2 separate regions of the Homo sapiens genome follow, and region 2 is reported to be linked to region 1. Evidence: microRNA targets listed by miRTarBase, many of them from high-throughput screens and not tested one by one. Region 1 holds a microRNA gene; the other region holds the end of a gene's coding sequence.
Evidence for each region. Region 1 holds the annotated microRNA hsa-miR-5591-3p (AUACCCAUAGCUUAGCUCCCA, at 2,376-2,396, opposite strand). A microRNA usually pairs through its seed, bases 2 to 8, with sites in the 3' UTR of a target mRNA and lowers its output. Matches are read on the target gene's strand: a 7mer-m8 pairs with bases 2 to 8, a 7mer-A1 pairs with bases 2 to 7 and ends in A, and an 8mer does both.

Region 2: miRTarBase lists TBX18 as a target of hsa-miR-5591-3p. The part of its 3' UTR that is shown has no 7-base or 8-base seed match.

What each region holds. Positions count from the first base shown.
Region 1 is chr4:39,410,928-39,414,349 of GRCh38, reverse strand. MIR5591 (microRNA 5591) reads right to left here and starts at 2,440; the gene lies at 2,376-2,440. All of the region lies in intron 1 of KLB (klotho beta), which reads right to left.
Region 2 is chr6:84,733,691-84,737,112 of GRCh38, forward strand. It overlaps TBX18 (T-box transcription factor 18), which reads right to left. Exons shown (of 8, transcript NM_001080508.3): 8 at 1-3,422. The coding sequence ends at 2,995. Among named protein-coding and RNA genes, the nearest start is that of TBX18, 29 kb to the right of the region's middle.

The DNA.
Region 1 (3,422 bases):
TATTTCCTCTTTTAACATTTTAAAAGCACTGTTTTTTTTTTTTTTCTAAAAACAGTATAGGCTGTACATTAATTTTGAGTTTCTGTATGCAACTTACAGATCTGGTGAAGATCTCCTTGAGGCAATTGTGTAAAATAATCATTTTTATGCCCCTCATACTGGTTACATGTCAATGTCCTTGTTCTTTGTGCTTCATGTCTTTAACCAGTTGTCTACTATAGAATAAGTCAGTGGTTTTCAAAGGTGGAGTGAGGGGGAGGAATTTTGACTTCCTGGGGACATTTGGCAAGGTCTGGAGACATTTTTGATTGTCACAACACTGAAAATGGGGGAGCTACTGTCATCTAGTGAGTAGAGTTTAGATGCTGCTGAACTCCTCCATTGCACAGGACAGCCTACCACAGCAAAGAATTATCTGACCCCAAATGTCAATAGTGACCAGGTTTGAGAAATCTTTGTACTATGTAAACAGTATTTATCTATGAAAGATAACATTTTCCCCCTAACCCAATGTGACTAGTAAAAGACAAAGATTTTTAAAGTCATGAAATGGTCAAAACTGTCATGAAAGCTGGCAGTATTTTTTGTTTTATTTTATTTTATTTTATTTATTTTTTTTTTTTCCTGAGACAGGTTTTTGCTGTGTCACCCAGGCTGGAGTGCAGTGGCACAATCATAGCTCCTTGCAGCCTTGACCTCCCGGGCTTAAGTGATCTTCCCACCTCATCCTCCCAAGTAGCTGGGACTACAGGTATGTGCCACCACTCTCAGCTGATTTTTTATTTTTTGTAGAGACAAGGTTTGTCTTGTCTCTACAAAACTATGTTGCTCAGGTTAGTCTTGAACTCCTGGGCTCAAGGGATCTTCTTCCCTCGGTTTCCCAAAGTGCTAGGATTACAGGCAGGAGCAACTCTGCCCCGCTTTGGCAATATTTAGTGGAGTAATAAACAGAATGAGTTATTGTCTCATGAGCAAATTCACCTTCCCAAACCTCTGTGCATGTTTACTCAGAGACTCTCAAATGTTCCATTCTAAAAGGGAAATGTACAAATTTAAATTATTACATGTATTTATTGATTTAAAAATAGAATGAAAACAGACATTACTGCCTTTACTAATGTGAACCCTTGGGGCTTTGCTGCATAGGCCAAATACATTTCTGGGATTGAAAAAACTAAACTTGGGAGAGAGAAATCTTTCCTCTACAAAGGAGAAGATGACACAACCCGAGGAAGAAATGGACGTGAGAGGCTGAAATAAAGGGCCTTCCTGGTCACTGAGCCCATTCATCCCTGTGGTCTGGTTACTGAGCCAGGAAATTGCCCCTTTTTGCTTTAGCCAATTTGAATTAGATTTCTGTAACTTGCCACCAAAAAAGTCCTGACTAATATACCACCCGATTAATATCAGTAATATTTCGACAGTTTGCAATAATGCAATGAAATATGAAGATTGAACTTGAGATTAGTTTTTGATTACAGTATTTAAGACAGAAATCCTAAACCATTCATTTAACCAACATTTACACCTAATATGTACAAATATTCTGTGCTAGGTGCTGAGAACATAAAGGCAAATTTAAAAATTGTCTCTCCTTTGAAAGAACTCTCAGTCTAGCTGGGGAGATGGAAAAGTATCATGTCGTATGAGTGCTATGCTAGAAACAAGCCCATCTTATGGGAGCCAGCAGAAGGGGCACTTAAATCCTAAAGGGGCAAGAATGACTTGGAGGCAGTGACCATCACGAAGTAAAGAGGGCATTTGAGCTAGACAGAGTGGGATAGTTGAGGCTGGGTGGAGAGAAATAGTAAGGAGAGACTGAGACACTGGCAGTAGTGTGTTATGATCGAATATGAAGTGCAAGAGGATGGGAGAGTGGCCAGGAAGGAGGCTGGGAACTGTATCTCAAAGGTCTTGGTGAAAAATTGAGACTTTATCCCCAAAGCTTGGGGGGGCCACTAATGGATTTTACACAGGGGAGCAATATCACGCATATTCAAAATATCACACTGTAAGATGAGGATAATAGTTACCTGGCAAGATTGTTGTAAAGAGTATAGATAATATTTATTTATTTATGTCCTTTTGGAATGTAAATGTTCATAATATTTCTCTTTTTAAAAATATTTTTAAAATTTCAATAGTTTTGGGGTACAAGTGGTTTTTGGTTACACGGATGAATTGTATAACGGTGAAGTCTGAGATTTTAGTGTACTCATCACCAGAGGAGTATACATTGTATCCAATATGCAGTTTTTTTATCCCTTACTCCTCTCCCAGCTTCCCTGTTCTGAGTCTCCAAAGTTGATTATATCCTTCTGTATGTAGGTATATATCATTCTGTATATATAGTCCATTGTATCATTCTTATATAGTGGGAGCTAAGCTATGGGTATGCAGATGCATACATAAGCTCAGTATACCCATAGCTTAGCTCCCACTATATGAGAGAACATATGGCATTTGGTTTTCCATTCCTGAGTTACTTCACTTAGAATACATAGATATTATTTCTTTTTTCTTTAAATAGAGAAGGGGGTCTTGCTATGTTGCCCAGGTTGGTCTCAAACTCATAGGCTCTGGGATTACAGGTATGAGCCACCATGCCAGGCCTAGAGATGATATTTAAAGTGATGATTACCGTGCTTAAAAATGGCCAAGCCAGGGCCAGGAGCAGTGGCTCACACCTGTAATCCCAGCTACTCGGGAGGCTGAGGCGGGAGAATCGCTTGAATCCGGGAGGCGGAGGTTGCAGTGAGCTGAGATCGAGCCACTGCACGCCAGCCTGGGTGACAGAGTGAGACTCTGTCTTAAAAAAAAAAAAATGGCCAAGCCAAAAAATACATCCTCATTCTATTTCAAATGCTGTTAAAAACAGCTTTGACGGGAGACTGAGGCAGGAGAATGGCGTGAACCTGGGAGGCGGAGCTTGCAGTGAGCCGAGATAGCGCCACTGCACTCCAGCCTGGGCGACAGAGCAAGACTCCGTCTCAAAAAAAAAAAAAAAAAAAATCAAAACAAAACAAAACAAAACAAAAAAAACCTTAGTTTTGAGGCCGGGCGCTGTGGGTCGGGAGTTCCAGACCAGCCTGACCAACATGGAGAAACCCCGTCTCTACTAAAAGTACAAAAAATTACCCAGGCGTGGTGGCACTTGCCTGTAATCCCAGCGACTCGGGAGGCTGAGGCTCCCGCTTGAACCCGGGAGGCGGAGGTTGCAGTGAGCCAAGATTGTGCCACTGCACTCCAGGCTGGGCAACAAGAACGAAAACTCCGTCTCAAAACAAAACAAAACAAAAACAAAAACTTAGAGTTGGTTCATCCATTAGTAGGTGTGATTATGGAAAATTTTTACCTGAGTCTTAGACCCGCATTAAGGTACTCCCTACATCTGCAATAAAGTGGAATCTAAATTGCAAGTC
Region 2 (3,422 bases), not on the chromosome of region 1:
TTCCTCTAAGTCAAACCTCCAGCTATCTCCAAAGCTGCTGTTTATTAATTTCACACTAAGGTGTGAGTTACTGGTAGGATTAAGTCTGGAGGGGTAATGAAGAGCTATTTACATTTTAAAAGTGAGATTCTTTTTCCTCAAAATTTTGCTAATTGATGTAAAGAGTGAGTATGATCCTTCCTTATATAGGTTACACTGTGCCCCAACCTTCTCTGGGGGCCACCAAGGATTCCTGACCCCTTACATTCCAGAAATCAAGGGTCAGCAACTGGGTGCCTCACTTGTGAAAAGCTGTTGACCTCTGGAAGGCAGCTTGTAAGGAAGCAAGTGTTAATTTTCAAAATGTGACTGGTCTTGATAGCAGCAACCTCACCCCATCGCGATGTCCCTTGGAATGTTTACTAGTCAAGGGGCATAGAAGTAATCTGTCATCACTAGTCAGTGGTGCAAGCCACTCATTCTTGTAACCTTGCCTTTCTCCCCTGGACCCAAAACAAAACATACCACCCCATCCCTTTCCTCTCACATTCAAATTTTCATGTGTTCAACATTTGTCAGGGCCTTCACCTTCAATGACATGGTCAACACACCAAGAAATTACATTTAACACATGAAACATGAACAGCAGGCCCATTTCTTTCTGCCATGTATTTGAGAGGTACAGAATTTGCGTTTGGGGTGTGCATGTGTGTGCTTATTCTTGGATCAATATTTTTAGACATTAAAATGATTACCCTCCAAAATCATAAAAGGGTTTAATAACATATTTTAATATAATTTTAAGTACTTTTTAATAAAATACAGATATATAATTATCAATGTATGCATGTCATTTAATTCAGCAATAAAAGGCTAGTCTCTGAAGTGACGTGGTGATTAATATTTACAGTAAAACCTAAAAAAAGCATTTGTACAATATTGCTAAAATTTTACCAGAAAAAAGATTAATAAAAAATTATACTCATATTGTGGTATCATCTGAAATGATCAACGGCAAGAAGGAAAATGCTCTTATTAATACATATGGGTATAGAGCATTACTTTCCATGTTTTTTCAAGATGGAAAACTCTCTGTTCTTGAATTATACACCAAGCACTATTGGCTGAGATGGACTCATTCTTAACACCTTTCCCCAAATCTTTGTCAAGCTATTAATGCCATACCCAAACATCTTACATAGATCCACCTACTGCAAATATTTCATGTCCCTTCATGCTAGTTTTAAATTTAAAAATTTAATACTAATTTGATGAACTGCTAAGGAATCCAAAAGGAAATTTGTTAATATGTATAAACAGAGTCACATCCTGTGCAAATTCAACAGTATATCTCCCTAAGTATCTAACAAATTGTGTTGTTTCAAAGTGAAACAGCAAATCAGGAGTTGTACCCTTTCCCCACCAAATCCAGGGATGAGTTAAAGCAACTCTTTTTAGCAATGAGAGAAAATCATGCTCTTTTGCTTAAGATACATGAAATGTAATGAATGGGTCAATGCACAGACATGTTATTTCGCTTTCTCCTCAGAAGGGGAATGTGCCTCATCATGTATTCTTAGCCTTTTTTATTTATCTCATACTGTGCTCTCAAAGTTACTTGTTTTTAACTCTTCAACCATGCATATATTATTTTAGGAATTAAAAAATTTAATACTGATTTTAATTTCTCCAGTTCTGACATTACAAATTCTGTTGAGGTTAAAAGTTTTATAGTTCCTTTATCATAATTAGTATCTTCCTTCTTAGTCCTCCAAGAGGGTCTTTATAGTAATGGGCTTTGGCCTTTGCACTATAGCTCCCAAAAGACAGATTGCTGGAGATAACCTACTGAAATTCCTCACCGTGTTATTTAACACCATACAGGCCTAGGAACTATCTGTTTTGGGAAAGACTCAGGCAGACGGACAAGGTTAAGAAGGGGAAAAGGGTTCAATGTGTAGGAATTACAAGATATAAATAAGTAGCATAAATGCATTTTTTTTACTTATATACTATCGGTCAGGAAGCTCAGAGCAAGATGGAAAAAATATTCTAAATTTAAAAACAAACTATACAAAAACATAAGGTATAGTTAACAATAGTATTACTCTTGATTTAAAAGATAGACATTTCTCATTGGAATCAATGAATTTGAGGTGGATTTATTTTCCTTTTGCCATTCCACTCATATCACATATTCCTCCCCTGGTGAAAATTGGAATTTAAAAATGTTTATAGAACATTCTTTAATGGTCTATTTGATATATAAAATAAGCAAAAAATCGAAAATACTGGAAATTTGTTCTCTACAGATGAATAAGAACCTCTTATGTGCCCAATGGAAAGTGTAAAAAAAAAAATCACAAGCCTCTCCTTTACCTTCCTTAAGAAAATAACAATTATTATGGGTTATGATTTTTTTATAGACCCAAGGTCATATAGTATGTGTGGTAAATAATAAGCAGGAATGAAAAAGCTGATCCTTCATGATTACAAATACCTCAGGACTAACACTAAGACTTCAACTGGCTTTTGTATTTTAGATTCTCACACTGTGTCCAAGAATAACAGAAATCACAAGACTCTACATGCTGGTTACTGCTGGTTATCAATACATCAAGTATGAAACCGTTTAGAGCATTTTTCTGATAAATTAAGTTATAAGTGTTCTTCTGGATAGTATAATTGCCAAGTTTTAAGTTTACCATCTTGTTTTTAAAAGAGTCTGAGAACTTTGCTTAAACATACTACACGCATGCCAATACTCCGTGCAACTGGATGAAACAGGGGAACAATAGGGGCCGTGATACTCCATGTGCTATGTATATACAGCATACATATATACCATAGATAATTACAATCTCACCATGATAAAGTCAAAAAACCCAGTGAGCCTTCATTTTCTATTATATGTACATTTTATAAACCACAGAGAGTTTCTTTCCACATAGCTTTTAAAAAAGAAAAAGAAAATATGTTAGACAGATCCAAATGTCATTTAACTTAAAGGCTTCATCAGACCATATGTGCAGATACTTGAGATGATGACAGAGTTAAGCTTCCTAGGGTCCTAGAGTCAAAGAAACTCTGCTGACCCCCACTGCTAAGCAGGTGCACTCCTTCCACAGGGGGCAACATCTGCCGATCCGTCATGGTCCCACTCGGTGAGGACCCCAAGAAACTTCCTTGGGAAGAAACAATTTTCTCAGGACTGGCAGCCAGTTTGGGGGATGTGGAGAAGTTATATCCATATAGTGCACAGGGGCTGTGTAATCTAAAAGTATTATAGGAACCCTGATGGGTCTGGTTAGTGGCGAAGGCATTGCTGGAGGGTGATGGCATGATATACTGGAGCTGGGGGGACATTCCCGAAATCTGCATGGATAAGCTGGTCTGTGGGCAGCTGAAGGTGTCCCCATCAGTGCCACCCATGGACATGTTCA